4 linked regions of the Homo sapiens genome follow. The protein of the gene in region 2 interacts with the protein of the main gene of each other region in a pairwise test. Each region holds a gene or a part of one and is shown on either strand. Other genes may lie near its edges.

Region 1 (8,115 bases), on a different chromosome or scaffold from region 2:
ACCAATGTAGAGGATTCCCACTTTCAGCAGCATACCTGAAATCTATAAAGAGACCACAAAAAAAGGGACTGAGGTAGAGAAATCTGGAGGGGACACAAAGAACCGCAGTCATTAACCTGAAGGAAATATCAAGTCCCTGTCTCCTAAGTGACATCGGCAGGCTCAATAGGCAGACAGGAGAATGAACCAGAGACCCCATGGAGTCTGACTCAATGCACATCATGCAAGTCACAGTTATCTTCACCACCATCACCACTATCACCTTGTCTGGGGAGCATTTTACTCTTCACAAAAGGCTTTCATTCATGTGATGTCAGCTAATACATGAAGAGCCTTATAAAGAAGGTTATATCACTCCATTTTTGAAAAATGAGGAAACAACCAGTCGGGCGCAGTGGCTCATGCCTGCAATTCCAGCACTTTGGGAGGCCGAAGTGGGCGGATCACAAGGTCAGGAGATTGAGACCATCCTGGCTAACACGGAGAAACCTCGTCTCTACTAAAAATACAAAAAAAAAAAAAAAATTAGCCGGGCGTGGTGGCGGGTGCCTGTAGTCCCAGCTACTCAGGAGGCTGAGGCGGGAGAACGGCGTGAACCCGGGAGGCGGAGCTTGCAGTGAGCCCAGATCGCGCCACTGCACTCCAGCCTGGGCGACAAAGCGAGACTCCAGCTCAAAAATAATAATAATAAGTAAAAATAAACAAACAAACAAACAAATAAATAAATAAAGAGGAAACAGTCTCAGAGAAGGTAAATTTGTTGTCATGATCACAAGACAAGTAAATTGCATCATCAAGCCAGGATCTTCGGATCACTGGCGTAGCTCTCTTTCCAGTGCATCACAGATGTCCCTCATCCCTGGCTTCCACTATTCCCATCACTCTCACTAACAAATCTACAAGGTACCAGCATGAAGCAGTCCCAGGTGCAAGAATTTATGGCGCCCTGCACTTCCCCTGAGAGGCAAAGGAAGGCCCTAGGACTGGAAGACACGCATCTCTCCAATCCACATGGTTGGGTGGATTTTATGTACCATACTGAAAGGAAGCCACCTAGCATCTTTAAAGAGAGGGAGGGGGCTAGGGACACTGAGTAGAGTCATTGAGCCTCAGGTTGCTAGGACGAAAATACTGAACCAACCATTTCCCAGTAAAGGAGGAGTGGGAGCAGGGTCATAGGAATGGGAATGGAGTCACGGCATCTTAAGGACAAGGGAATGGGTATTCATCTTCAGGTGCTCACACTAGTGGTCCAGGAGTTGACTGCATAGGCCACAGCCTCCTTCTGGTTGAGTGTCTTTATTTCTTGCAGCTTTTCCCTAAACTTCTGGGCTTCGCCCTCCTCGTTGGCAAAGCTTCGAACTGTAGGCATGGCCGACAGAGCCTCAATGGCCACCTGGCTGGACTTTGCCAGAGATTCCCGCACCTGCACTTCCAGCAACTGTGGATACATGGACAAGAGATGTCACACGGGTTGGCAAACCATCAGGGACACTAATACCTGAGTTACCTATTTGGAAATTAAAGGTGAGAAGAGACAGAGGAAAAGGAGAAAAGAGAAAGAGACACAGCTATGCCCCTTGGATGCTAAAGAAATACGAGGAAGAGGAAAATGACTCAGAACGGGTTGGGGATCAAATTCTTAAAGACAGATTGTGGGGAGAAGCTAGAAAAGAAGACCCAGAGAGTATGGAGGTTAATGTTGAGCAACCTGGGAACATGGACCACAGGGACAGGGTGTTCCATGAAGATGGAGAATCAGTAAGGGTGCCAGGAAAGCTGGACTGAAAGCAATGTGAGAGGAACTGAGTCTGCCAAGTCTGGGAGATGAGGGTCTGTGTAGAGCGGGCCAACTCCATGAACATACCTGGTACCATTTTCCCACCTTCTTGGGCAGAAGGAAAAGCAGAGGCAGGGTGATCAGGGTGACCATGGTGAGGGACACTGATCCCCAGAGCATGATCCCCAAGAGACATAGGCCTCGCACCAGGTACCACAGAAATAAGCTCAGATTCTCACTCAGAGAATCACTCAGGGTGGACGTGTCCTCTGTTACCCGAGACATGATGTTACCTGCAGGGTTGGGGAGAAGAGAGTGAGGTGAATCAGACAGGTTCCAAGTGATGAGACGAACTAACAATGAGCCAGGATGCCAGGGTCAGGGGTGTCAACATGGGGTTCTAAGGAGGCTGCAGGAAACAAGGTTAGGGTTCTCCAGAGGTCTGCAAATCTCAGTGCAGGGAAGATGAGTGTTAAAGAGGAAAGGCCTGACCTTCATTTTAATTATAAAGTCATTAATGCACATGTGAATTTCCATTTTCCTGAAAGCTTTCTGTTCCCTAGAGAACCTGTATGTCCCATGCTATACACACAGGCAGGAAGAGCTTAAACTGGTCACATAACAGAGATGGAGGAGGAGGGTGCTGCTAGGAAGCATGCCAAAGTCTGTGGAGCACTCACTGGGACTAGGGTTCTAACCCCAGGTCTATCTCTAGCCATATGTAACTGTACAGCTTCTAGTGCTGCTAGAAAGCATGCCGAAGTCTGTGGAGCACTCAAGAGACCAGGGTTCTAACCCCAAGTGTGTCTCTAGCCATATGTAACTGTGCAGTTTCAGCATTTAGGGTCTTGGCCTCAGTTTCCTTCTCTGTCAGATGAGGCAGTTGGTCTCTATGAGCTCAAAATTTCCAGGTTTGAAATTCTATGGTTTCTATCTAAGGATACATAGGAATAGATTTATAAGAAAATGCTAGATGAAAACTCTAGGTTTTTCTTAAGGTAAGGAGGACAATATTTTGCTCCTGAGGTATATCAAGAATGAGAAAAACAATTGTGTGTGTGTGTGTGTGAGAGAGAGAGAGAGAGAGACAGAGACAGAGAGAGAGAGACAGGGAGAGGGTATATCAAGAATGAGAAGGAACAATGTGTGTATGTGTGTGTGAGAGAGAGAGAGCGGGGAGGGGGGAGATCAAAGCAGATGTATGAGGATATGAACAGTACATGGCGTATAATGAAAGAGTTTCAGGAGAAACCTGTCTGGTTCTGTTGGAAAAACTCCGTCTCCTGGCGCAGGACAGCCCCAAACACCTCTCCCTGCAAGTGGCTGTGCACGTGGCCCATGGTGTTGTTATAGATCCCGTCACCCACGAACTCCAGCACTGCACTATAAAGAACCCGGAAAAAAAGGGGATCAGGGTGTGTTCAGGGAACAGACTGAAGGTCCCAGGTATCCCCATATAAGTGCATTTCGGACAGCAGCCCCAACTTCCAACTCCCTCATTTGCAGGGTGCCCCATTTTCAGCCCCCAGACCTGGCTATGGTGAGAATGGACATGAGAGTTAAGTTTCGAGTGAAGGTATCGGCTGAGCCATCTTGTAGAATCCAGTCAGTGAGGCGGCCCGTAAAGAATGGAATGGCCATCTCCCCTGGAGAAAGAGAAGAGAGGTCACGCACAAATATTAAGTCTAAGTAGGTCAGTTCCAGTCAGACTGGCCCCACCACGCCTCCTCCCCCTCACCATTATCCTGGAGGGCATCAGCAGAAAGGAAACACTGACGTCTCAATCCCGAACCTAAATAGGCTGCCCTGGAACTCACTACCCTGTGGTTGCTCTACCAGAACTTTCAGGATTTTATTAGGAAGGCTGGAGATCATGAAGTAGAAAAGCCTCCTGTTAGAGATGAGGATGCCCCGCCCTTCGGCCCCAGAGCAAAGGATTTCCCCGCTTCCGGCGTGGCCCAAAGAATCAAGACCCGGTCAGCAATGGAGCCCAGAACCTCTGGCCCCCGCCAGTCCAGTGCCGTTTCTTCTACACCGAAGTGGTGTTCCAAGACCCACGCTAGGAGTCCTTCTCCTGCTCCACATTTCCCAGAACCCACGCTACTCTACCTTACTGACAATTACCTTTGATTCCTGTCCCAGTCCCCTTGTGTCCTCCCCTCTTGCCCTGCGTTCCCCTTACCAAGAGAGGAGAGGACCACCAGGACCAGGAACAGCGAGAGGCGGCGCGTCTCCGAGCCCAGGCAGCCTAGAAGCCGACGCACAGGGTTTCCAGAGCCGCCCTGACCGCCGGGCACCCAGAGGCTCCCGAGTTTGTGCCACAGGGCTGCTGCGGGCAGTGCCGCTGCATAACTGACAACGAAGGCGGTAGGGTGACTTCCCCAGTGCAGTAGCCTGGTGCTATCCGCGGACCCGGGGGCTCCCCATGAGATCAGCTCTCGGAACAAGGCAAGTCCCGGCAGGGCCAAGCCCAGTGCCGCAGCTAATGGCTTCAAAGCAGCCAGCCAGCCCTGGGCACCTGCGTTTTCGCTCTTGGAGCCAACCGTTGCCCTGAGGACCCCGCAGGCCCCCAGCCAGAGCACGGCCCAGCGGCTCAGGCCCACCGCCCAGACCCGGAGCAGTGGCAGCGCGGTGGGCACCAGCAGGGAGAATATGCGGGGCAGCGCGGTCCGGAGCAGCACCCAGTCGGCGAGAAGTAGCAGTACTGTCCCCAGCCATGCGAGAGAAGCTCCGGGGAGGCAGCGGCACCCGCGGGGAGCGGGACACCTAGAGCTAGCCATTGGCACTCGGACGCCGTCCCGGTCCCGGCCGGGCCTGGGACTCTCCGCGCCCCGGTGGGGCCTGAAGCTCCGGGTACCGCCGAGTCCTCCCCTACTGGCGGCTGGGGGAGGGAACGAGGGCGGGGCTCTCGGAAAGTCCCAGGAACAGGCTGATCCTGCGCTGGCGAGAAGCTCAGCCATTTAGGGGAAAGCGAAATCGAAAGCGGCCGCCTGCTCACTAGATAACGCCTACTTCCAAAAGTGGCCTGCCCAGACTATTTTGGTAGCAAGCGTGGAAATCAGATCTGAGAATCTCGGGAGCAGCCCTGGTGCCCAATTTTCTCCATCACGCACACCCTTCTCGCCTCTCCCTGCCTCCTGCCTTTCCACTTGCACCAGTTTTCCCACCCCAGCCTCAGGGCGGGGCTGCCTCGTCACTTGTCTCGGGGCAGATCTGCCCTACACACGTTAGCGCCGCGCGCAAAGCAGCCCCGCAGCACCCAGGCGCCTCCTGGCGGCGCCGCGAAGGGGCGGGGCTGTCGGCTGCGCGTTGTGCGCTGTCCCAGGTTGGAAACCAGTGCCCCAGGCGGCGAGGAGAGCGGTGCCTTGCAGGGATGCTGCGGGCGGGAGCACCAACCGGGGACTTACCCCGGGCGGGAGAAGTCCACACCGGGGTAATGGGTCTGGGCTTGAGGGTTGGCAGAGGGGTGGAGGAGATGCAGCGGCCAGGGGACCCTGGAAGCGCGCGCGGAGAAGTGAATGCAGAGACCAACGGGAGCGCAGGGAGGTCGCCTGTAGCAGCCAGCGCTTGCAACCCGCAATGAGCATAGAGTATTTCTTTTCTGAGGGGGGTCGTCTAGAGTGTCCGTGAAGGGAACAGGCACGCGAGGCTGGTGGAAAAAGCGGGTGCTTTGACTCTTAGCTGGAAGCGTCAACGGGAAGCTACTCTAAAGCGCTTTCGCTTTCACTCTGGTCCCGGACAGTGGGGGCTGGTTAAATCAAGAAAGGGGGTTGGGGATGGTGCAAAGAGATGAGGAAATGGTGCCCTGGGTGAAGTAGAACAGCACTTGGGAGAAGGAAATATAGGCACTTATTGAGAAGGACCAACTCATCACACAGACTTTTGATAAACTTGCCACTGGGCAACTCTTAGCCCAAGCACTGATAATGGGCGTTCTGTGTTAACTAGTGATGCCCTTCCCTAGCTTGACCCAGGAAGGCCTCTCCTTGGCCCAGATGCTGCCTTACTCCCTTCCCTGTGTCTTCCCTGCCCACTCCCATGTGCCCACTGGGGGGACTTTGCTTAGGATGGGCGCCTGGGGCAGATGGCAGCCCCAAGACTGGCTGGCTGGCTTCTGCTCTGGACTACTGCCACCACTCGTGGCTTGGGGGCGGCTTTGTTAGAGAGGAATAGCCTCTAACTTGAAGTTAACCCTGTTCTTTGACCCTCTATTCATGATAAGTCGGTCCGTCGGAAAGCATACTCAGAGGAGCGTCCTTTGGGGCCAGAGTAACTTACGGCCTGGTAAGAAAGACACAGTGAAACCACTTATAATTTGGGAAATCTCCCCTCACTGCCAAATGAGCAGTGGCAAGTAGGAAGTAGAAGTGGAAACAAGGGATAAGAGTTAGACCTGAATTTTAGTCCCAGGTCTACTATTAACTCTGTGTGACTTTGCATAAGTCGTTTGCATTTTCTGTGACTTGGTTTCCTCATTTGAACCGAGGATCTTTAAGGCTCCTTCCAACTCAATAGTAGAATAAATGTAGCTTTATCTTCCCTCACTTCTTCTTGATTCTTTTCTTGACCTGGAAAAGTCAGCTTAAACTTCTCAGTCAAATTATCTCTTGGTACAAATTTACCTCCCTGGCTGCTGAGATATGTATTTACCTCTTGATCGGAAATTCCATAACTGAAACTTTTATTTTCAACCATCTGTATGTGTTCCTTGCTGCTTCTCTCCTGCCTTGCCCCTGGCCATGCTAACCACTGCCCTCCTCGATTTTTTCCAATGTTCAGTAAATTGGAAGAGCTCACTTCTGATGAAATGGGGGGTGAGAGTGGAGGATTGTGGACCAAAAAAAAAAAAATAGACTGACCTTGTTTCCCAAGATCATAGTCAATTACTCTGTGTTGGGTCTACACCACATCTGCACATACTATGAGCCCTTCCGTTGGAGATAATTTTCACTTGCGGAGCTGCTTCACTTCTACCTGTAGGAGCCTCATCTCCACCTCTCTACAGTGGAGAGGATTCCACTAGGCAAGTTGGAACTTAGGGACACAGTTCTTTCTGTGTTGTATCACAGCTGGGCTGTGGCATTCCCCTGCAGCCGGATGAAGCAATAGAGAAAGTGGAAAGATGAAGGGAAAAAAAGCCTGTACTGACAGTCAGCTCTGGCCTGTTACTGTGTAATCTTTGAGCCAGTCACTTCGCCTCTCTGGGAATGTTTCTTCTTCTCTAACATGAGGGCATCAAGGCTGTTCTTGCCCTGACATTCCATATTCTGTGTCTCTGCAGACCACCATCATGGCAGTGGAGTTTGACGGGGGCGTTGTGATGGGTTCTGATTCCCGAGTGTCTGCAGGGTGAGTAAAAGTGAAGATGTATGCATTTGGAAAGAAGCTAATGGCCTCAAATACACACTTTCCTTACCCATTCATGAAAAGACTGGCAAACTGGAGCCTTGGAGGAATGGAGTTGACCTTCCCCAAAAGCCACTATGATAAGCTATTTGGTGGGTGCTTGGGTCTCTGAATTTGTGGAGGAGGATCTGGGGTCTGAATGTGTATGTGACCTGTCCCAGTAGTGTACAGGGATGAGTAAAGGAATAGGGTCTGAGAGGGGGACAGGAGATAGATTTTTGAGGGTCTTCTTTCCATCTGTGCTTAGGGATCAAAAAGATGATTCTGTCAAGCAGATACCTGGTTTCTCATTTACCATATATTGAACTATTTTGTCTCTTCTCCCACTCCTAACCAATTTCCTCACATGCAAAATGAGTATATGGGGTTAGGTCAATATTACTGACATTATGTTCCATAGAACATAACTCTCTCAAGATTGTTAATAGCAAAGAAAATTGATGAGGCATATTTTTCTTACCTTAGCATTTTTTGCTTTGTTATAAAATCTAAGCCTGAAAAATAAGCCTAATTTTGATTAACATCTGCAGTGATTAATAATATCTGAGATGATTATTTGCCTCCTGCTTTAATCCAAGCATTAAACTTCATGCTATTCTCTTGTCAAAGAAATTTGAGAGACATTGAATGATCACCCTCAAAAATTCCTGAGTTCTGGTTGGGTGCAGTGGCTCACATCTATAATCTCAGCACTTTGGGATGCCGAGGTGGGCAGATATTTGAGGTCAGGAGTTTGAGACCAGCCTGGCCAACATGTTGGGACCTTGTCTCTACTGAAAATACAAACATTAGCTGGGCTTGGTGGTGGGTGCCTGTAATCCCAGCTATTCGGGAGGCTGAGGCAGGAGAATCACTTGAACCAGGGAGGCGAAGTTTGCAGTGAGCCCAAGATTGATCCACTGCACTCCAGCCTGGGTGACAGAGTGAGA
Region 2 (7,512 bases):
TGTTAGAAGGAGTTGAAGGAACAAAGAGTGTTCCAAGCCAAAAATAAAGCATATATGAAGTTAAGCTTTACAAATTCAACTTAGTGTAACATTCCTACTACTTGGCTAGAGACATCATCCATCCATCCATTCTTCTGATTATCTATCTACCCATCCATTCATCCTCCCATCCCTCTTGTCATTCTTTTATTTATCCACCCATCCATCCTTCTTTTCTTTCTTCCTCCCTTCCTCCCTTCCTTTCTTTCTTCTTTCCTTCCTTTCTTTTTTATATCCATCCTTTCATCCATTCATTCATCCATCCGTCTATTTATTCCTGGTAGGTGCTAAGATATTTATTGAATTAAGTAATTAATTTAAAAAACCTTTACTGAGAGACCTAGTATATGCTCGGCATTGTGCCAAGCACTGTGGAGGGGATAAAGATACATAAGATATTATCCCAAGTGACATGAAGCTTAAAATCTCATTGAAGAGATGAACATTACACATACATTAACACAATACAAGCTGAATGGAACAGGTGTGTTAAGAGGTGCCCTATGAATTTATTATTGGCTGTGGGGATATTATATGGAGGGAAATCTAAGTTTCAGTGATAAAATTAACAGGCTAACACCAAACTGAATATTCTTCATCTCTTTCTTTTGTCTCTTTGCTTATTTGTTTTATTTGTTTTGTTTTCTAAAATTTGTTCTTTGACAGACTCTGTGGCAACAGCATCCGGGCCACTACTAGTCGAAGTTGCCAAAACTCCTGGTGCCAGCCTTGGGGTTGCCCTAACTACCTCGATGTGCTGTAACAAACAAGTCATTGTCATAGACAAAATCAAATCTGCAAGTATTGCAGACAGGTAAGTATTGTAGAAAGTGCCTACTTTTCCGCCAGGCGCAGTGGCTCACGCCTGTAATCCCAACACTTTGGGAGGCCGAGGCGGGTGAATCACCTGAGGTCAGGAGTTCGAGACCAGCTTGGCCAACATGGTGAAACCCCATCTCTACTAAAAATACAAGAAATTAGCCAGTCATGGTGGCAGGTGCCTGTAATCCCAGCTACTCGGGAGGCTGAGGCATGAGAATCACTTAAACTCGCGAGGCAGAGGTTGCAGTGAGCTGAACCATTGCACTCCAGCCTGGGCAACAAGAGTGAAACTCCATCTCAAAAAAAAAAAAAGAAAGAAAGAAAGAAAGAAAGTGCCCCTTTACAAAATTGCATGTGTGCAATTTTAAATATATATACATACATATGTACACACACTTGTAATACACATATACACATGCATATACACATACACACACACACACACACAGTTCTCTTGCCAGTTTATACAGGTTTCACACACAGAAGCAAGTTACTGTTACAGGGCTTAAAAATTCACCTATGTGTCAGCCACCCCATGATGTCACTTCACGTCATCCAGATGTTTGGTGTGGCCTTTAGCAATAGAAAAAAAAATCAAGCAACTAAGCAAGTTTTCTTACTGTGTCCTAGGGCACTAGCCTGTTCTTAATGTAGGGTAGCTGAGTAGATCTTTCTTAAACCCCATGCAGAGCAGTGATGGGTTTTCCTGAATTGTTGACAATTAAATCCTGCTACCATAAAATCTGATTTCTTTGTTTCTTAAATAAATAAAACAATACTTTTTAAAATATTTTTTACAATACTTTTAAAAAGTCCTATACTCTCATAGCATGTTAATCTTAGGATTTTACAACCTTCGAGGGTGTCTTAAAACATCATTCGCTTCAATGCCACAATAAAAATGAAATTTCATGTTTCTAATTAATATTTTATACTCGTAAGGTAAAAGGGGAAGATAAAAAAAGACTACCTTTCCATCTAATTAATTATTTTACAGCTCCTGGTAAGAAAAACCTCATCTCCCATAGCTAAAGCACTCCAAGTGCAAAAAATGTGGAATTATGTTTTTAGTTGGAAGATATGACTTGAAATGCTTTTGTCTTGAGACGTAGACTATTCACACTGGGAATTTATAGATATACTGCACCTGAATGACCAGTCTCCCCTGTATGTTTCCAGCCCTCTTCTCCACGTGCCCCTCAACCTGCCTTTCCACCTCCAGCCATGGTGCAGTGAACTGCAGCAACCCCCCGTAGTGGTCAGTCTACATCTCCATTGTGGTCTTACCCAACATTCAGTCCTTATCAGTGACAGCCATTGATCCAGGGGTGTTGTGCAGTTCAATGGCACAGGATGCTTTAATTTTCTCCCTCTGTTTTTTCCCATTCCACAGGGGGTAACCAGTTTAAGGAGCTGTTCACTTGACTGGTATGTGGGGATGCTGACGACTGCGCTAGCTTTTCTTAACTCATCCAGTAGCCAGCTCTTGAGTTCAGCAAGATGTAGCAGCTAGCCCCTTCCCTGCCCCCATCTTTCCCCTTGACTCACCATGCAGGCCTGGTTTTATTACTCACTTGACTCCTGCATAATTTCTACCATTATCAAGAGCTTTTATACTAATACATGTTCAACTCCAGAATAACATAATAATAAAGAACTGGTGATCTTGGAGTTTGTGTGAGGATTCCAAGGAAGTATTACTGAAATCTCCCCAAGTTATTCTTCTTTACACATAAAATAGACCCTATTCCAATTCTGAGAGTCATGTTTGAGATTCTGAAGATTTACCCACTCATGTTTATAGATAGAAAAGCCTAGAACAAAAAAACACAGACAAAAGTCCAGGGGAAACATTTTCCTGTTTTTCCCTTTCCTCTTGCTCGCTTTCCCTCAACTTTCCACACAAGCACTCCAAAATAAGATTTTTTTTTTAAAGAAAGACAAGAGAAAACATTTCGTTGAATTTTTCTCTATTTTCCACAAGGTTTTACTTCCTTGTTCATATTCAAGGTACTTAAAATTTGGCAGATGGTGTTTCCTATAACACTCAAACTTTTCTTTTCTTTTATTTTAAGTAAATGAAAAACTGTGAAATTTTAACTATGAAGGACATGAAAGTCAGATTCCAAAGAGGAAGGCACTGCCTCTTACCGAGTATTTCTCCTTTCCGTAGATGTGGCGCATTGCATGTGGGAGATCACATCCTCTCCATCGATGGAACCAGCATGGAGTACTGTACACTTGCAGAAGCAACCCAGTTCCTGGCCAACACCACTGACCAGGTCAAGCTTGAGATCCTTCCCCATCATCAGACCCGGCTGGCCCTAAAGGGGCCCGACCATGGTGAGATGGTCCACCTGGATCAAGCTCTTTCTCTGGCCCTCACAGTGTTGCTCCCTCTAGCAGAGTTAGACAGCAGAAAGACACTGGGTCTCATTCTGCCTTTTTTTTTTTTTTTTTTTTTTGAGATGGAGTCTCACTCTGTCCCCCAGACTGGAATGCAGTAGCATGATCTCGGTTGACTCCAACCTCTGCCTCCTGGGTTCAAGCCATTCTCCTACCTCAGCCTCCCGAGTAGCTGGGATTACAGGTGACCGCCACCATGCCCAGCTAATTTTTGTATTTTTAATAGAGACAGGGTTTCACCATGTTGGTCAGACTCATCATTTCTTTTCAAAACAAGGTTATGTTTGTTTACTCTAATTCATCTTCCAAAGTCTTTTTTCTAAGCCACACATAATTTGCTTGAAACCCTAACATCGAGGAAAAAATTTTCAGGCTAGTGCTATTTGATATTTTTTTCTTAAAAAAGTCTTTGGTGCAAATTGAATGTGCAGACAAGGAAAATAATTTGACTTCCTGGTATACATTTTGAATTTCCAGCCTAGATGAAGGCCAATGAAGGCAAATAGTAAAGCTCTCACTTAAAAATAAATAAGTAAAGTGGATTTTAATAGCAGAACCTTCAAATATTTGGCAGGAATCAGAGGGAACCAGTTATATGAAGCCTTGGTTTACAATATATTATGTCTTTTGCCAGTGGAGTTTTTTTCTTAGGATAGAGAACAACCTGTCTGAGCAAACATCTTGTCTGGGAGAATCAGAATATTTAACTCCATTTATTCAATAGAAAGTGTCAGCTGAAGGTATCTGTATTTTGACTCCCTTGAAATTCACAGATACATTTGCTGGGTGTTTATACCATCTACCTAGGCACCTTTAGGCAAAACCTGGTATGAGAAAGGGGTCTTTGAGCCCCAAATCAAATGAAGTCAAGTTTTCCAGTAGGATATTTGTTCCGACTCCCTCTCCTGCCCTATTCCTTAAAGCAAACACCATTCCTTTGTACTCCTTGAAATTAGAGGCCTCACTAGTATTGTCAGGGTGGCCTGAAGGAGGATAATGCATTTCTGTATATTTAGACACAGTGCAGTTTTCTCTGAAATTGAAATTTTGCTTATGAGGGGGTCATTTGTATTGTGTCTCCCACCTTTTAAAATGCACTACACTTCTCCACAGTCTGGGGCGGGGGGAAAGAGGGACCAGATAATTTTCATACTAAATCAGTCAGCTGGATGCAACCTTTTTAATTAAATGGAGCTTAGACAGCCCTGAAGCTAATGAAAATCTCTAGTACAACATTACCCTTATCAGATTTTAATTTTACACATTGGAGTAGAGAAATGATGCAGCATAGGCAGGTTATGAAAAGAAAATCAGCATCACAGTATTGGAATAGCAATGCAAACAGCTGTAGGAAGGTGCCGTTCACAAGGATGCACACCATTCCTATCAGGAGGCCCCGTGGGCCCTTCCTGCACTCTGGCAGAGAGGAGAGATTTCTGAAGCTGTTTAAGTTTCTTTAAATTAATCGGCAGTCATCATTGGATTTGGAGCACAGTAGCCATAAGAATGTACACTGTGTAGTGCTCTCTCAGCATGGGGTTTTGCTTGCTAAATTCTGGTATCAGCGAATCGGAAATGCATACCAGACCCTTTTAAAATGTTAGCATCTTTAGTAATCTCTTTTATTTTTCTTTAATTGGCCCTATATACAATTCATAAATAATTCAAGTGTTTTCAACTCATGGAATATTAAATTTTTTAACCTGCCAAGGCAATTTGAGTTTAATTTATACACTAAAATATATGGACTAAGCACAAATTTTTTGCCTTTATTGTGGAAAACCTGATGTCGTTTGTGTTGCAGGGATAGGAAACTGATAGGAAGTTTAAGTAATTCTAGCTTCCACTTCTGACTCCATCGTCTACGTTTACTGAAAGTTGTTCACTGTCTTTCTTATCAAGCAGGTGTTTCCGTTATATTGCACATTAAAATCAGACTTGGATTTCCAAGAGGAAATAAATTTTGGCTCCTAAACATAATTAAATCATAGTAAAGAAGAAAAACAAACAAAAAATTATTATTGTGTTTACAATTCTCAAATTTTTGACTAGTGGAGTTTTACATAGTTTTACCCTTTCTCCACAAGAAAGTTCTGATTGTTTTTTCAAGATCTCTGATGCCTGAACAGTGTGTCTCTCAACACACTTCCCAAATTTCCAGATTGTGTTAGCAGTAAAGCATATACCACAGAGTTTTCAGGCCAGTGTGGAAATGAATATCTCAACTTGGGATAAGAGATTAGCTATGCCTTTCACTGATAAATAGCAGCATTAAAGAAGCTGACAGAAATGAGTTTTCAGTGAGGTTAGAAATTTTTCCCACTGAGGGTTTTCAGGAGACATAATTGGATTGAAGGAAACTGACGTTTTGGAAAGGAAAATGTGACCAGAGTCACTAGACTCGACACATTCAGTACCAGGAGGACCTTCCATTTGAGAGCTCCAGGGCAACCTGGAACCACTGTGGTCTGCTCTCTCGAACATCCTGAACAGAGTAAGAGGCTGCAATTAGAGAAAGAAGAAAGAAAAGTAACTTCTGTGGCCATATATCTCTTGAGACTGCAGTAGTGACGTCACCATGGAATGATACAAGAACCATAATATTTTAAATGTGTTGTTTTCTTATCCATAACAAGGGACTTAGACATACCCATAGGAAGAGGCGGTATGTCTGGTGGTTGAAGCGGGGACTTTAGGATCACGTGTCCAGAGCTTCACCTCTGACTCCACCACGTGGGGTCTTAAGCAAGTTACCCAACTTTTCTATACCTCAGTTGCTTCATCTGTAAAATGGGGGTCATAATAATACTTGCCTCAAAGGAATATTGTGAACATTGTCTGAGCTAATCCATGAAAAAGCACCTAGCACAGTGCCTAGTATATAATAAGTAATCAGTGAAAGTAGGCTACAATTATTGGCTTTATTAAATGAGAGAATGTCTATAAGTGCTCTTTGCAAAATGACAGGACATGCCAAAAATGTAACATCTTATTATTAAACTTTGGAAATACTTGCCTATCAAGTACACCACTGTAAAACAGAAAACATTTGGAGTGTACATTCAAAATAGGCAGCAGCTCTCTTCTCTGGCCTACATTATTTGTTCAACACCTTTTGCATTCATCATCCATGGCATACAGTTTTGTGCATTATCTTATATCATTTTTGTCTCTTAATTATTTTATATGTATGAAGATTTAATCCCCAGTAGTAATTCAAAGTCAAGGTAAATGGTATGACCTTTAACCTGCCTGTAGCAATTGGCACAGTCTGAGAAAGCAATAGCTGGTAAATAATATCTTCCTTATTGACTTATTAATTGTGCTGTACAGTCCTAACAAATGCCCAGTAATTTTCAAAGCTCTCAATGAAGAAGCGGGTCAAAAGGTGGGTGTAGAATCCCGAAGTGCATTCACCGTACCCTGGCTTCATTTGAAACACAGATGGTACTTTGTGAAAAGTACGCTAAAGTGTCGGTGGTTGTAAATTGGCCAAACACAGTAATAACTGCGTCTTGCTGAAATGTCTTCTTGTACACCCAAAGTAGAATGAGGATGGTGAGAGAGAATCCATTAGGGACATCTCCTGCAATAAATACTCTTTTGTCTCAAGGAAAATGCTGCTGCAGTGTTCACATGGACACTCTGGCTGATATTCCCGTTCATTCATGCATTTGTTTATTCATTCATTCATGTATTAGTCATTATATACCAGGCACTGTTCTAGTTGCTAGGATATATTTAGTGAGCAAGACAGGCAAAGTATATCCCTACTCTTATAGAATTCACATTCTAGTACAGACAGACAAACATTAAAAATATATTAAATAAATAAAGCTGTTTCAGACAGCAATAAGTACCATGAAGAATGTAAAACAGTAATGAGATAGCATGGGGAGGGCAGCTCCTTCAGCCAGGGAGATCAGCAACAACTTCTCTGAGGAGGTGGCACCTCGGGTGAGACCTGAATGATGAGAAGGAGGCAGTCATACAAACAACTGGGGAAAGAACAGCAAGTGCAAAGGCCTTGAGGCAGGAAGGAACCTGACTTGTTCTAAGAGTAGACATAAGATCAGTGTGGCTAAAATATACAAATGATGGGTAGAGTGATATGGATGAAACTAGAGAGATAGGCAGGGGCTGCCTTTGATTCTCTTTGTAATAGTTAGCTATTCAGGCCCGGCGCAGTGGCTCATGCCTGTAATCCCAGCACTTTGGGAGGCCGAGGCAGGCGGATCACCTGAG
Region 3 (7,512 bases), on a different chromosome or scaffold from region 2:
TGAAATCTGAGGGATGTTTAGAGGACTGACCCCCAGACAAGGGATTTAAAATGTTTTTTGGCCAGGCACAGTGGCTCATGCCTGTAATCTCAACACTTTGGGAGGTAAGGCAGGAGGATCATTTGAAGCCACAAGTACAAGGTCAGCCTGGGCAACAAAGTGAGACCCCCATCTCTACAAAAAATAAAAAAAAATTAGCCAGGAAAGGTGGTGCACACCTGTAGTCCTAGCTGCTTGGGAGGCTGAAGCAGGACGATCGCTTGACCCCAGGAGTTGGAGGCTGCAGTGAGCTATGATCTTGCCACTGCACTCCAGTCTCAGTGGACAGAAAAAAAATTTAATTTTTCCAGAGAAAAGGGAAGGGAAAAAGTGTTCCATAATCTAGGATATGTTCAAGAGCCTTTGCTCTTATAGTCAAATATATAAAAACAATTTTCCTTAAAGAAATACCAGTCTATGAGCCAAGGCAAGCTTTGGCTAAATGATTGGTTAGCTTTTATTTGGCTCTAGAGGTTTCCATGGAAACAGCCTGAGAGACAGAAAAGGCAGCATTATCATCTTTATCCATGATGCCATCTGATAAAACTGCACATTGATTCATTCATGCTATTCAGAGCAGATGTATTACTTCTGATAAGCCTGGACAAAGGGAGGCATGAGTTTTATCCCGTCACGCTTTGAATTTCCTGTCTTCCCCTGTTTGAAACCTTAAATTAAAATCCTGATAAAACCTCCTCTGAACATTTCCCTCAGGAGCCTCTAGCTGAAGTAATGCTTCAATAATCAGAAGTCATATGAAGAAACGTGAAGCCCCAAATGGAGCTCCACTGCCAAGTTCTTAAAATTATATGGCACCACGCTTCCTGTAGCTGAAGAAATTGTTCTGAAGAGTATTTACAATTCCATTATATCAGATCTCAGCCAGGCAAGAAATGTCATCATAAGTGTTTATTATATACAGTTGAAGCAGGTGGCATCATCCATCATTTTTCTTCCTCTTGATGTCTAGATCAGTTGTGTGTGTATTTTAATATAGTAACACACCCTCACAATTATCTAATCTTATTTCAGGTTAGTGCTTCTTGGAAAGGCTACAAAAGCAGCCATAGCTCAGAATTATGTATCTGAAGTAAACAAAAATAAAAACCTCAACAACAAAATATTAACCAAACAAACAAGATAAAGACGCATGCAACCTATAGCACCATACCTAAGACCACAAAGGGCAGGAGGGTTGACAGAGGTCTTAAGAGGAATCCAGTTTTGGGTTTTCTCCTAGGATGAGATCCCAAATATAGAACCTATTTGTAGAGTCCAATACTTTTAAAAAGGGAAAGCCTGAGAAATTCTGTTAACAGAAATATGAAAATCCATGATTTTCCAGAAGACAGATGATTTGACACTGTTCTTATTCTAAAAGCATCAAAGACGTTATACCTTAGAAATAAACTGCTCACTTTGGAAGATCAGTTAGGCAATCCCTGCCAACCTCAATGAACTAAAATGATATCTCAGTAAGTTAAAAATATGATACACCCCCACCAAGGACCAATTTACTCATGGAAAGTAGTTTACAGAGCAGTTAGCTCTCTGACATCTGTATAACCCTACAGACATGTGCTACATTGAAAAGATTCAATCTTGCACATATCATTATATGCTCCACATGGCAAAACATCTGAAAAACACTCAGATGTTTTTCAAAAACCTCTGTGCATTATGACATTGGTGTGGAAATTTAGATCTCAGCTTAATCCTTTCCAAAAGAAGCGAGTAAAAGTCCCGGGAAAGGTTTACTTAGAGATGAGTGAAGATTCTGGTAATTTAAAGGTGATGGGTTAAGAAGCTATAGAGCTAGAAACAACTTCAGATCTCACCTAATCCCTCATCTTATTGACGGAAAAACTGAAGTCCCAAGATAAGTATCAGATCCAACCAATGGAAGAACTGTGACCAGAAGAGAAACCATGGGACTCTTAGTTCAGTGCTTTTCCCCATCATGTTTATCTGGGGCTCCTTTAAATCTTAGCATGCATAATTTAATAAAGCTCTAAGGAAAATGACTGAAAAGTATCAGAGAGGAAAAATGCTGCCTTCTAATGAAGACTTTGGCAATTCACGTTCTGATGTGCTTAATATTAACAAACGGAAAACCCCAGTCATCTTTTGGCAAAAATGTTACTTCTTCTAAGAAACAGGTTCCTTTTCTGAGAGCGAGCTGATTTTGTAGGTACTGGGTTACAGCATTGTAGGTTACAGCTGACAGTTTTCATATGCCCCATCTTTGTAGTTACAGTTAGATTCTGCAGATCCTATATCATCAGGTGGACTGAAATGACTGCTGCCTTGAGACTCTGTATCAATACTTTTGGTTTCTGACTGAAGGTGGACAGAAACCTGAACTGCTATTTCCTGGCCTTGTTCATTCAGAGAGCCATCATCTGAATCTCCTCCTGGTGAATTACTCCGTCCCATCTCTGGGTTAATGACATAGATGCCACCTTGAGCATTCAAGGCAGGTCTCTCTTTAATTCTTTCACCCAGGTCATCAGGGTCGTCCACTCGCACAGCCTCAAACATCTCCTCAACAAAGGCTCGACAGTTTAGAATAAGAGGTGGAAGAGGGACACTTCTTGCCAGTTCTTCAATATAACGAGCAAACTCCATGGTCTTAAATTGTGTGACTTTGGCGAGCTCCAGAGTTTTGGCTGAGGTAATGATGGGGATACGTTTTGCAATCTCAAAGGCCTTCTGAAGTTTCTCAGCCCCTTCAGTTCTAAAGAACTCATTGATAGCCTTCTCAGTCTTGCGAAGATGGCTGCTCATCATGCACAGCCGTGTGACATTCAAGATGAGTGTGATTGTAAAGGCAATCAGGCAAACAATCATGTAATAGACACTCATGTCTCCCGAGGTGAAGATAACACGTAGGGTGACAGAGTAGGAGGCACGAATTGGAGAGGTGACGAAACAGGTATAGAGCCCACGGTCATCAAAAGCTACATTGGTGATGTTTAGGAAGTTATCAGAAACCAACCACTTTCCACCTGATAATTGAACAGAAATGAAAAAAAAATTATAGCAAAAAGATTACTAAATATGCCCGCTGCCTTATCCATATTCCACCTCTTTATCAAAGTACTTTAACTTAGCTGATTTGTTAGATTCTACCATTTGTTTAAATCATGTAAAAAAAGGGCAGACTGTGAGGTCCAGAGTCAGAATTTAATTAGCTTGGATCTTAAAAGGAAATCAAGATCTTCCTTCATGACACTAATAATTAACATAGCTTCCTTTTCACTGCTAGACTTCAAAAGCCTTTCTGTGAAACAGGTATGTCTATAAAATGCTAAATGACTAATCATAAAAAAAGCTTATAGTTTATACATATGTGTCCGTCTACATCACATTGCAACCAATACATTTTCATATACTATGAGGGTATGTCTCAGAAATATAAAACAATGGTTTAAAATAACAGTATTTTAAATTTTTATGAGTAATTTTTATTTTCTTCTAACTGTGTTTGCTCACTTTCCATAGTGAAATTATATAACAAGAAGAAATTATTTTAAAAAATCCTAGCAATTTAATGCATTTGTTGAAGTAACTGCCTAATCTGGTATGCCTTGCACATATCAATTTTTTGTTGTTGTTGTTAAGAAACTTTTGTTGATTTTCTGGCAAGAGTAACTGAAGCACAGGCCAAAAAATACATCTCACAAGTCATGGTAAATGAAAAGCTTGGCAAAAAGAATAAAGTTGCCCTTAAGATGCCTATGCTTCCATTTTCAACCTAAAACATACTGCCTCTCTTCCACACGTGAAGGTATTTTCATTCAGGGAACACGTATATAGAAGTATACAAGTGTAAGAAAAGCAAAGCATATTGACTACGCATCTTGATTCACATCCTTCAATAACTTGGCTCTGACTGCATAATTCCTACTTTTGTGATACATTCCCAAAGCACTCTGTGCTTTAACTATGAAAGCCATTCAGAGATGGGAAGGATGGGCTAACCTGCAGTGTGGGGATGCATTCCAATGACTAGAGGAGGTGTCCCAGAGGAGGTTAGCGGACTGCTTGTTAAGCATTACTTGAGTGCCCAATCTTCAAAATCTCTTTCATCCCCAAGATTCTATGGTTCTGGATTATTTTAGTGGCACATAAATTAGTAAGCACTCTGGATTTTGTCCATTTTCATCATCATCCAAACTTATCTCAATCCTATAGGTATTAATATATTTAAAAGCCATCACTTCACTAATACAAAAAGAGGAAAACATGTAGTTATGAATATAGCCATTTTCCATAAGCTTCTGTTCTATGAACTTAGAGCTATGAAAACGACACCACTTGAATCCAAGGTATGATGAACTACAAAGACTCCATTCATCAACCATTGCACTACAACCACAATCTAAACTCTCTAGCTCACTTGCTGATAATAGCTCAAGATTTATGAACCTTATACTAGACTGACATGCTCTTTAAACTCCTCTCACTTGAGATTCATAAAATTTAATACAATTTTCCAGAGCTGCTGCTGAAAGCATCAATGATAGATGTTAGTGGTTTTCAAAGTAAAGGCAAAATAGAAAAATAAAACTGCCATTCCACTTGGCTGGTCTTGTTTTAACCTAAGGCTTTGTTTATGCAGTCAGTCTACAGTGATGACACTGAATGAATAATTCAGATCTCAGAGGTGTTTGGTCAGGATATCGTAGAGCCCAGAGAAGATAGGAGTCTGGTTCAGTGGGTTCAAATATGGAACCCCAAATCATGTTCAAAGTACACATTCCAGGTATCACTCTAATTCAATAGTTATGTATTTTAAACATGCTGATTAAAAATACCCTAACAATTCAAACTCTTCAATCCCTTGGTGACTAGTCACTCAGTCTATAGATTAAAATAGTGCATATGTCTGAAGGAAGTATCACCTGTCTCCTTTTGTGTTTTCCAGCCTAATATGAATAACCAATATCCTTTTCTATTTCAGAAGGCTACACTATCTTCCTAACAAAAAAATTTCTGAAAGTGTAGCTTGTGAGGATCTTAGAATTTAAGCTTCATCCCTTTGGCTTTTCATGGTGATTTCTTTTTGAGGTCCATTATAACTCAAGTACTCATCAAAAAGATCTTTATAACAGAACACTGGTTAGGAGTAGTCTGGATTAAGATATATTCACAGATCCATGAATAGGAAAATTAAATAAAAATCTGTCAAAAAGTAGACCTTGAACACACTATGTTTATGTGATTTTTAAGACATAAACAAAAAATGCAAAAAAAAATTTCTCATTTCCAGTAAATTAAGGTATAGAATACAAAAAAAAAAAAAAAAAAAAAAGAGCTGGAAGGGCTTACAAGTTCCATAGTGCCCTTCTAATTCTCTGAGACCTGACGTCAAAGTTTTATGCACAGATTGATACTCATTTTCAAAAATGTCCTGGATTTCCTCTAAAGTTTATAGTAACTAATTTCAGAGCAAAACTTTTTTATTTATAACAAATTTTCTTAAGTCTAGCCAAAAACCTTCTGGATGTATTCACACAGGGCCACCACACTGTACTACTGACATAGTAGTCTAGGTGAAGGGTGCTCCCAGAGTTGTGTTGTATACCACCTGTACAGCTGTATGCAGCAGCCCTGATTTACTCTACCTTCAATGAAGAAGAAAACCAACTGATCAGGAGAGAAAATAGCTCATTGTCATCATGTGAACATCTTTTAAATTTAGAATGATTCTTTTTTTTCTTCTTCTGGTTAAACAATTATAATTACTTTGCATTTTCTGATAGGTACAACACTCCAGACCTTTCAAATGTTTTAAACTATTCACCTTGGCACCTTATCTTTGAGACTTTTTGTTTAACGTGTTAAAAAATAAGAAGACAGAACAGGAAATGAGTAACCTTGATTAATTATACCCTGACCAATTACCTCTGCTTCTGCCATCCAGTTGCTGTCCTTTTGAATTGTGCCAATGGACATCTTCATAGTGACTGGCTGTGAGAAGACACTCAATTGAAACGCTAGTTCCCTCTTTGGCTATGATGACATCATCATCCGAGTGGGAACTTGCTGAGAGTTCAAAGCTTGAGGGAAAGGATGCATTGTAAGAACTACGATTTGCTTCCAGTGAAACCATTTGGTCGAAGTCCACATCTTCCAAAACAAAAGCAGCTGGCACAATAATACTTGCCACTAAAGTGAATAAGCAACAATGTAGCTTCATGGGAAAATGGGACAAAATCTTGTTTAGATTTGGAGAACTCAAAAACTTCTACACTACAACAAAAGCACAGCGGGTAATTTATTGCTTGGTAGAGAAATTTTCCAAACAAGTGGTAGATCCAGTTATATTTTCTAGTCTTCAAGATTAAAAGATGTGAGTAGAGAACCTAAAAGAAAGCCAGATACAAAGTTTAACCAACTGAGATTCATAATGGGGTGAAAGTGCGTATGTTCCAGAATGAATAGATGTTAATTAGAATAATTGGTGCTGACATTGGGGAGTAATTAGATGGAACAGTACCTAAAAATCTCACACAGAGACAGCAGAAAAAGCAATGAATTGGTAAATAGCAGACCTAGATTTTGGTCCTAGCTTTGCCACTAACTAGCTGTACGACCTTGGCAAGCAGCATTCTCTCTGGGTTTCTGTTTTCTCCTCTGTCAAATAAGGGACTGGATGAGATAATCTCTAAGGACTCTTCCAATTCTGAAATGCCATGATTCTATTTCATTCTGACAAATTTTATGCAACAGGGAGCCAATGAAGGCTAAAATATTTATCTTAATGATCTTTTATTTCAACCTGCACCATTACCATCTGTTGTTATAATGTAAATCAACTGGCATATCATAATCATAACCATGGAGCTCAAAATTTGAGTAATTCAAGTATGAAGATATGTTACATATAAATAATGCAGGGACACCTGAGGTGGGTTGTTTTAACACTGGAAAGAAAGCTGCACTTACTGCATACACATAAATAGAGTTATTGACTTCTAAAGCTATGGAACCTCCTTCATGGGCAAGAACATTAGACAACAGAATTTTCTTTTAATAGTTTCTCCAATACGAAGAGACAAAGTACAGTGTATTTAATAGTTTGTAAGCATACCAAATTTCTAGCTCAAACTCTGTAAACTAGCTAAGGGAGGAACTGACATCTTAAGTGTCTAGTTAGTAGAAATGCAAATATAAAACTACAGGGACAGATTGTTAGACACATTTAAAAGAAGAGCAAAATATCTTGAATAAAAGGCAAAATAACATCCTAGTCCAAAAGTCTATGTATTTATGATCACCTTCCTGGTAATTTGACTCCCCCTTTAAGCCACCAACTCTCAAAGAAAAAATTCAACTTTTATTTCTATAAAATATGGGATGAAATGCCTAGCTTTATGTCTTATAAAGCACCAAGATAATTAGTTTTGGAAATGACATTTACTCTCCTTTATATTTATATGAAGGCTGCTTGATCACAGAACATAA
Region 4 (7,700 bases), on a different chromosome or scaffold from region 2:
GTGACCTGCTTTTCTCCTCACTAATTTTCCTGGTGATCTGCCATCATGCACTGTGATTTCCCGCTGAGAGTTCACTTCGTGTCACCAAACTGCTGCCCCCCCGCCGCCAGCCTCACCAACAACTCAGTGCAAAGGAAATCAACGAGTAGCCACAAACACTGCACCCCTGGTGGGTGGCAGGGCAAAACGCCTCAAGTCCAGGATCACAGCTCTTATGACCTGGAAGGGACCATCACAAATATTTCTTTCTTTCCCACACCTGATTACATTATACAGTTTGCTATTTTACTAACAGCAGGAGTTACTGCCAAAATAATATTGTTTTTGTTTATGACGAGGCTAACAGAAATTCCTACAGAGAGCAGTATTGTGAATAACATAAACGCTCTGTGGTAACGGCCTATCCTACTGGACTCTTTTCTTTGGTTTAAATGGGGAAAATCCGGCCAATTTTCACACACACACGTCAGCTTGCTTTTTTCTGGCTATGGCACAGAAAAGGTTACACACATTTTGGGCTACAATTTTAGGGCTGAAAACCAACTCCAGGTTAAATAAGGAAAAAGAATGGAGAGTGATTCATTCATAGCATTTTGGTAAATATAGACACTTGTATGTGTTTGCAAATACTTGGCCTTTAAGATGATTTTGTGTGCACAAATAGGCATATTTGATGGAACAAATATGATTTTCCCTCCCATTAATAAACAAAATCCAATGAGCTCTTTCTCACATGCGAAACTGCACCAGTTCCCATGCTCTGAGTGCCTGACTTGGTGTAGACCCAGCATCCTCCAAAGCAGTAACAAAAACACAACCTCTGCTTACCCCAAAATTATGAATCAGTCTCAGATATCTCACACTCAAGACATGGGTCACAAGCCCAGCTGTATTCAGAAAATTCTGGAGCAGAAGGACAGCCCATTCTCAGGTGACGGTATTGGCTGAGGCTTCAAGAACATTGATTAAAAACTCTTGCACCCTCCCTACCCGCAAAAGAATCCATTCATTTGCATCCATAGATGAGGTCACGCACAAGTTGCCTTCACACCCAACACCCATGGTGGTTCCTGTCCTCACCTGTTTTCCAGGAGTGTCATGCACACCACCTCTCGCACCCCGGGGTTGTTGGCCTTCTCCACGGAACAGCCCTGCAAGTTCCAGGTGGCCAGCCTCAGCACAGGCCTCCCATCCCTTGTGCCTCCAAAGGCCTCCACGGACGGCCGAGTGGAGATAATCTGGGTGGGCCCCCCTGGCGGCAGGTCCAGGTCCTCACTCTGCAGGCTCAGGGAAGTGGGGCTCGGGTGAGGCTTGGCGGTGAAGGTCAGTCCCCCGTTCGTGTGGGTGGATGGGGGCCTGGACCTCTCAGCAAACACCTGGTGCCGGATCCTGTCCAGGAAGGCGGCATTGATACCATCCATCCTCACTAGGTCCTCAACGCTGCGAAAGGGCCCATGCTCACGGCGGAAGTCCACGATGCTGAGGGCCATTTTCTCCGAGAGGCCTCGCACGCTCATGAGCTGGGCCGGGGTGGCTGTGTTGATGTTAACACGTGGGGTGAGGGGCACAGCTGTGGCCAGGTGGTGAGGCTGCTGCTCCGCTAGCAGGTCCCGCCGCAGGGAACTGGGAGAGTGCTGCGCTGAGCTGCCCTTGCTGCTCACACAGATCTCAAACTTGACCTGCTCCAGCTTGGTGGCGCCTACACCACTGACCAATGCCAGGTCCTCCACCTTCTTGAAGCCACCGATATACTCTCGGTACTCCACGATGCTGCGTGCCACGGCACGCGTCACCCCAGGCAGGGTCATCAGCTCCTCCTCCGTGGCAGTGTTGATGTTGAGCCGCTCCTGATTCACTAGAATGTTGCTGAAGTTACAGGCTGCGCTGAACTTGCGGCTATGGGACAGGTCCGAGGGGTCCCTGGGGATGGAGCGGTGGCAGCCCAGGGTGCTCCCCATGGTCCGCCAGGATCAGGCTCCCGGGAAGGCCGCACCACTGCAGAAGAGCTCTCTGGCTAGGGAGGAAGCCCAGTAGGCCGTACAAGCACAGAAAAACGGAAGGTGCAGGATTCAGGGACTGAAGAGGTTACTATAGACAAACACCGAATCTTCCATGCCTGGCGTGTCCAAAATTACCTTTCACTTGGCCGCCTAGAAAATAAATCAATAAACATAGAAACCCATTGAATTAAGAAATTTGCATTAGCACCCCCTACCTAGTGCTAGAGTTAGTAACCAGGAGTCGGGGACTGGTGGCTGCCCGTGAACCCCTAAAAACGCAGGCACAATGAGGCTAGGCCCATGTGGATTCTCCTCTAGGGACGTCCGGGTTTTATCACACTGGAGTCCAAAAAGGCTACGAGCCGCTTCTCTTGGGAAGAGACCTATCCCCATCAGCCTCATGCCTCTCCTCCAGGCCTCTCTCAACTCTGACACTTGGGTCACCCACACTTGGGCTCGCGCAGACGGGGTGGCCACTCCACCTCCCCCACGCTCCGCATCTGACACAGCGCTACCTGCAACCTGGGAAGTCCGTGCTCCCCGGAGCGGGCACTGAGAAGGGGCTTATCGACCCCCCACCCGACCTGCCGCGGGTCCCCGCGCCCCACCTCTCGGCCGCTCTGCGGGGCGCCGGTTCCTCTTCCACCTGCGGCTCGGAAGCCTGAGCCCAGCCCGGGACAGCACGGGCCCCCTGCCTCCAGCCTAGGCGTCCGCGCGGGTGTGGGTCACTGGTCAGGCCCTGGAAGCCGACTACGCCGCTTCGGTCTGCGTGTCCCGGCTCTTTCTATGGGAGAAACTTAGCATCGCTCTCCCAGAGTGAATAGAAGCCGCAGGGCTGCTCGGAGGCGGCGGCAGCGGCGGCGAAACCCGCCGCCGAGGCTGCACCGGGGCTTGCGGCGGCGCCGCCGCAGTTGCGTTTACCCCGGCAAAAAGTCCTGCGCCCAACTCGGGCGGGGATCCGCCAGAGCCAGTCCAGACCCAGCACCAGCCGCACGGCTCCCGCTCGCAGTCGGTGTCAAAGCCAAAGTCCCGGCCGCGCCGCGCCGCGCCGCTCGCGCCTCCGCAGGCACCGCGGCCACGCCTCCTCCGCGCGGCAACTCCTCCCCGGGACTCCCGAGGGCACGTGGGGGAGGGGCCCTGGCGCGGGGCGAGGCCTGGCACCAGTGGGTGGAGAGAGGAACCCGAGAGCGCAAGGGCGGGCCTGGAGTGGGAGAGGCGGGGCCATGGAAGAGGGGGCGGCATCAAGGCTCAAGAGGGTGGAGAACGAACCAGAGAGCGCGAGGGGAGGCCCTGGCGTGCGAGAGGAGGAGCCATGGGTGTGGGGGCGTGGCCTGGCACAAATGGGTGGAGAGCAGAACCCTGGAGCGCGTGGGGCGGGCCTGGAGTGCGAGAGGCGGGGTCATAGAGTGTGGGAGCGGGGCCAGGGCGCGATGGGGTAGGAAAAGCGGGGGCGGGGCCATGAGCGCGGGGGTAGGCCCCGGGAGCGCAGAGGCGGGACTTAGGGGGCTTAAGGGGCGGAGCCGGCGCCGTGCCGGCGAGGGCGGGTCACAGGGAGGCTGTCCTAAGTCAGCTGCCCCCGGACCATGGTTGCCGCCCGGGGCCTAGGACTGGTTGTGCCTGGTAGAGGCTGTTTAGGATTGCCCGAGGCGAGATCTGCTCAGCTGCTTTTCGTCTGTCTTTGAGGTGTGGGGATGAAGGCCGGGGCAGTCCCTGAGAGTGCATCGCTGTAGGTCCAGGGTCTCACGGAATTTTGCAGAACGTTCCAGAGGAGACTGAATGGGATCGTCTTAATTTCTGTCCCCACTTTCGGCCTTTTCTTTTCTTCCACCAGTGTATTACCTTTGCTCCGCTCAGAGAGATGTCCTCTAATAACGCCAGCGACGCATTGTGCTCCTAGCAGAGGGCACGCACCACCCTCCTGTGTGTTCGCATAGGTCAAATACAGGTTTGCTCCTTTGCACATTTAGCGCTGTGAGTAAACAAGGATAAGTTTTTGTAATATTAAGTCTAATCATTACGAAGGAGGGAAATGGGGGCTGCTTCCCAAAACCCAGAAGAGTTTTTGCATCACACTGCTAAATGACAATTTGGTTAAAGATTAAAGAGCCCTCTGCATTATAGTGGATACCTAGAGCTAGAGTATTCGATTAAGCAAATCATGCGGTGATATCGTTGAATACTTTGACCCTGGACGTTTAGTGTTCTCTGAAGTTTCATCCCCAACCAATGTGACCAGTGCATCTGGTTTCAATTCCAAGGACTGGGTCAGCAAAAATAGTACCTCTCACAGGCGGAAGGTACTTTGGTTGTAAAATTAGCGGCAGCCCAAGTTTGGAAAATGCTACTGCCTTTCTGAGGCACATTCCCCTGCTATGTATATTGGTCAGAAAACCAAGTCAAACTAGCTTAGACCAAAAAAAAAAAAAAAAAGGTCGGGGGGAAATTTTTGGTTCCTTGTTGAAAAGTTAAGGTAAGGAATCTTACCTCAAGTCTGGTTGCATCCGACCCAAGTGATGATGGGGTCATTAGGACATGGCAGGACTGCCTCCATCTCTGGCTCCACGGTTCTCTTTATTGGCTTTATTTTTAGGCAAGCTATTTGCACTTGATCGCAAAAATGCCTTGCTACCTACCATCATCTCCCACCCAAACACTGGGCTACATTATGCCACGCACTGAAATCCTGGTGCGGTAAGGAAAAAACAGTTTAAGACAAGCAGGAAAACAGAGAAAACTCTTCGTTGAGCAGAATGCCTTGATGCGCAACGTGGCTGTGGAAGCACAGCCGTGGAGCGTGGCTACTTGGGCTGGAAGCAGAGAAAACATATTTTATCATACAAACCAGGACACTCTGGAGGTGAAGAGAGGACTCTATTAATAATATCCTAGAACAACAGAAATAATCTGGTTTTATTCCCCATAAACCTAGCAAATGCTCCCCTTGGTATAAATGAAACCAAGCGTTGGCCAAACCAAAGTGCATTTAAAAACACACATACATACACCCCACAAAAACATGCAATGAGATGGTTAACTTTAAAACGACTGATTGTATCCAATGTTGGTGAGGACGCAGAGCAATTGAAATGGTCATACATTGCTGGTGGAGGTGTAAGATGGCACCACTACTTTGGAAATCAGTTTGGAAGTTTCCTAAGAAGTTAAACGTATACTTACCATATGACTCAACCAATCTACTTATAGGTATTTACCAAAGAAAAAGGAAAACATGAAACCCAGAGACTTGAATGTGGATGTTCATAGGAGCTTTGTTTGTTATAGCCAAACACACACACACACACACACCCACACACACACACACACACACACACACACACAAAGCAAAACAACAAGAAACTCAAATCCATCAGTGGATGAATGAATAAATTGTAGTATATCCATACAATGGAATGCTACTGAGCAATAAAGACAAACTATTACATGACATTGAAAAGTCTCAAAATCGTTATACTGAGTGAAAGAAGCAAGGCAAAAAAGAACATACTGTATGATTCTATTTATATAAAACACCAGAAAATACAAACTGACATACATATAGAGAAAGCAGATCAGTGGTTACCTGGGGATGATGGGGAGGGAGGAATGGATTTTAAAGGGCACAAAGAAACTTTGGGGGCTGATGGCAATGTAGTTTGAGAGGTGATAGTTTCATGGGCATATGAATGTCAAAACTGACAGAATCGTATACTTTAAATATGTGCATTTGGGTGTACTTCAGTGACAACAGCTTTGGAAAAATCTTCAAAAAATGAAAAAAAATTTTCTCTGAATCTAAAAAAACATAGGCCTTGTTTTTGGGGAGAGTGGGGTACGTGAGCCTGGGTGGAGATGAAAAGGTTTAGGAGGGGGATGAAGGGGTCCAAGAAGTTGAACAGACAGCTAATAGAAGAGAACATTCCCCAGCTTGGCTTGGGGGCTCAGGAAAGTGGGCGACAGAGGCCTTTAAACTTACGGCTAACAGTCTATTTTATCTGCTGTGCTATTTCATGATGCAATCCTCCCACCCCTACCCCATGCACAGACACTAAATTTTGTAAGATATGTATGTAATGGCCATCAATAAGTTATGTTTAGGAGAGATAAAGTAAGGGAGCTGAATCTTTCTGGGTAAATTAAAGACAGAGAGAAAAAGGGCAGCTAAAATATGAAAGATGGGTGGGAGAAAGAGCCAGGATTCAGTGGAAGCAGAAAATCAGAATACGAGGAGACCCAGGGAAATACCTGACTTTCAAGAATCCTCATTGAGATTGGGAAGTTGGCTCGGGTCCCATTTTACAAGGAATGAGGGTTTTATTTGCATTTTATTATTTAGGGCTCTAGCTGACAACCCAGTTACATGACGATGTCAAAGGGCAGAAATTATATCATTCCAGCCAAATACCACATCCTGTGGCCACTGCCCCTTACGACATAGTTCTCACCTGGGGCCTGGTCAGAGAGGACCAAGGTCATTGGCCTTTTGCTTCTTAGTTAGCAGTTTTAAAGTAAATGGCGATTTAGGGAAAGGGAGAGGTGGCAGATGACAAGAAGGGAGAGCATTTGTGTTTTCAGTTTTACCACCCATAGTGCTAGGCACTGGAAGTACAGTGAGGAGCACACTCCTGACTTCTATTCCCGGAGCTGATGGTGCAGCAGGACTGCAGACATGAAATCAGTAAGACTAGTGCCTGTTGAAATAAGGGAGAGGAAGAGAATATGGATGTGAATTACAAGTAATTTCTGCTAGGGGACTTCCCGGGAAGTGAGGGTCAAGATGAGATTTGAAAGCTGAATAGGGAAATGTTGCCCCAACACACAAGACCTCAGTCCTGGCAAAGCAAGCCCCAATGCCCCAATCAATGAGCTTCAGTCAGGCTATTGACTTGGCACCAACTTGTGTGCAGTGGCCAAGCTGGATGCTGTCCTGAATTATATCAGTGTGACAAGGCAACGTCTCCTTTAGTGTGACCTTAACAGTGGATTTGTCCCTCTTTATCAGAGTAGGCTCCCTGTGTTCCCAAACTCAGGAAACTCCAGGCATTGGCAGCCCACTTGCGCATTCTACATCAGATCCTGCCTCACTGGGAGTTGTGGCAGAGGATGGCCAGACAGACACCATGGACAGACACCATGGAGAGGGGCAATGAACAAAGCTTCATCTTCTACACACAGGTATGTAATTCTGCTTTCTCTTCTGTGCCTGTATATAGACACTCAGCCGGTAATCCCACCACCAGGAGCATTTTCGTATATTACTCTAAAGGATTCCAGTGCTCTGCTGCATAACAGTGTGTGATAGACTGTACATGGGTGCCCAGTGGGTCCAGCCTCCCCTCATTCTCCTCCCTGTGTGACCTCTTTCTACATTCACTCCAGGCTTAGCCATGTGATTTGTGAGAGTAAGGCAAGCAGAGACAAGTACTAGTCCATTCCTTGTGGAATGTTCCCTCCTGGAACGCAGCTGCCATGCTATAGGGAAGTATTAACTCTCCTGTTGTGACTGAGAGGCCACAGGAAGAAGAACTGAGACACCCCAGCCCTCAAGCAGCACCAGGGCCTCTGAGTGTGAGAGAATCCTCTAGGACCTTGCAACCCAGCCTGTCCCCCAGCTGGATGTGCCCACAGGAGTGAGCCCAGCAGAGACCACAAGGAGCTGAGCAACCACCCAGCTGAGCCCAGCCACCCACAGGACATGAGAGA

The links.
Region 1: the proteins of GRIP1 (region 2) and PSMB9 interact in binary tests that used the Homo sapiens proteins (3 or more experiments, as listed by UniProt).
Region 3: the proteins of GRIP1 (region 2) and MFAP3 interact in binary tests that used the Homo sapiens proteins (3 or more experiments, as listed by UniProt).
Region 4: the proteins of GRIP1 (region 2) and EEPD1 interact in binary tests that used the Homo sapiens proteins (3 or more experiments, as listed by UniProt).

Annotation. Positions count from the first base shown.
Region 1 is NC_000006.12:32,849,077-32,857,191, forward strand, and holds the start of PSMB9 (proteasome subunit beta type-9 precursor), read left to right. Parts: upstream 1-5,115; 5' UTR 5,116-5,153; coding exon 5,154-5,213; intron 5,214-7,061; coding exon 7,062-7,129; intron 7,130-8,115. Other genes in the region: TAP1 (antigen peptide transporter 1), read right to left, coding at 1-42, 1,244-1,441, 1,868-2,073, 3,033-3,163, 3,312-3,426, 3,963-4,560. UniProt on the Homo sapiens protein: The proteasome is a multicatalytic proteinase complex which is characterized by its ability to cleave peptides with Arg, Phe, Tyr, Leu, and Glu adjacent to the leaving group at neutral or slightly basic pH.
Region 2 is NC_000012.12:66,458,616-66,466,127, reverse strand, and holds part of GRIP1 (glutamate receptor-interacting protein 1), read left to right. Parts: intron 1-705; coding exon 706-853; intron 854-3,034; coding exon 3,035-3,204; intron 3,205-7,512. UniProt on the Homo sapiens protein: May play a role as a localized scaffold for the assembly of a multiprotein signaling complex and as mediator of the trafficking of its binding partners at specific subcellular location in neurons.
Region 3 is NC_000005.10:154,048,455-154,055,966, reverse strand, and holds part of MFAP3 (microfibril-associated glycoprotein 3 isoform 1 precursor), read right to left. Parts: intron 6,411-7,512; 5' UTR 6,245-6,410; coding exon 5,950-6,244; intron 3,048-5,949; coding exon 2,254-3,047; 3' UTR 1-2,253. UniProt on the Homo sapiens protein: Component of the elastin-associated microfibrils.
Region 4 is NC_000007.14:36,148,583-36,156,282, reverse strand, and holds the start of EEPD1 (endonuclease/exonuclease/phosphatase family domain-containing protein 1), read right to left. Parts: upstream 3,030-7,700; 5' UTR 2,609-3,029; intron 2,151-2,608; 5' UTR 1,959-2,150; coding exon 1,081-1,958; intron 1-1,080.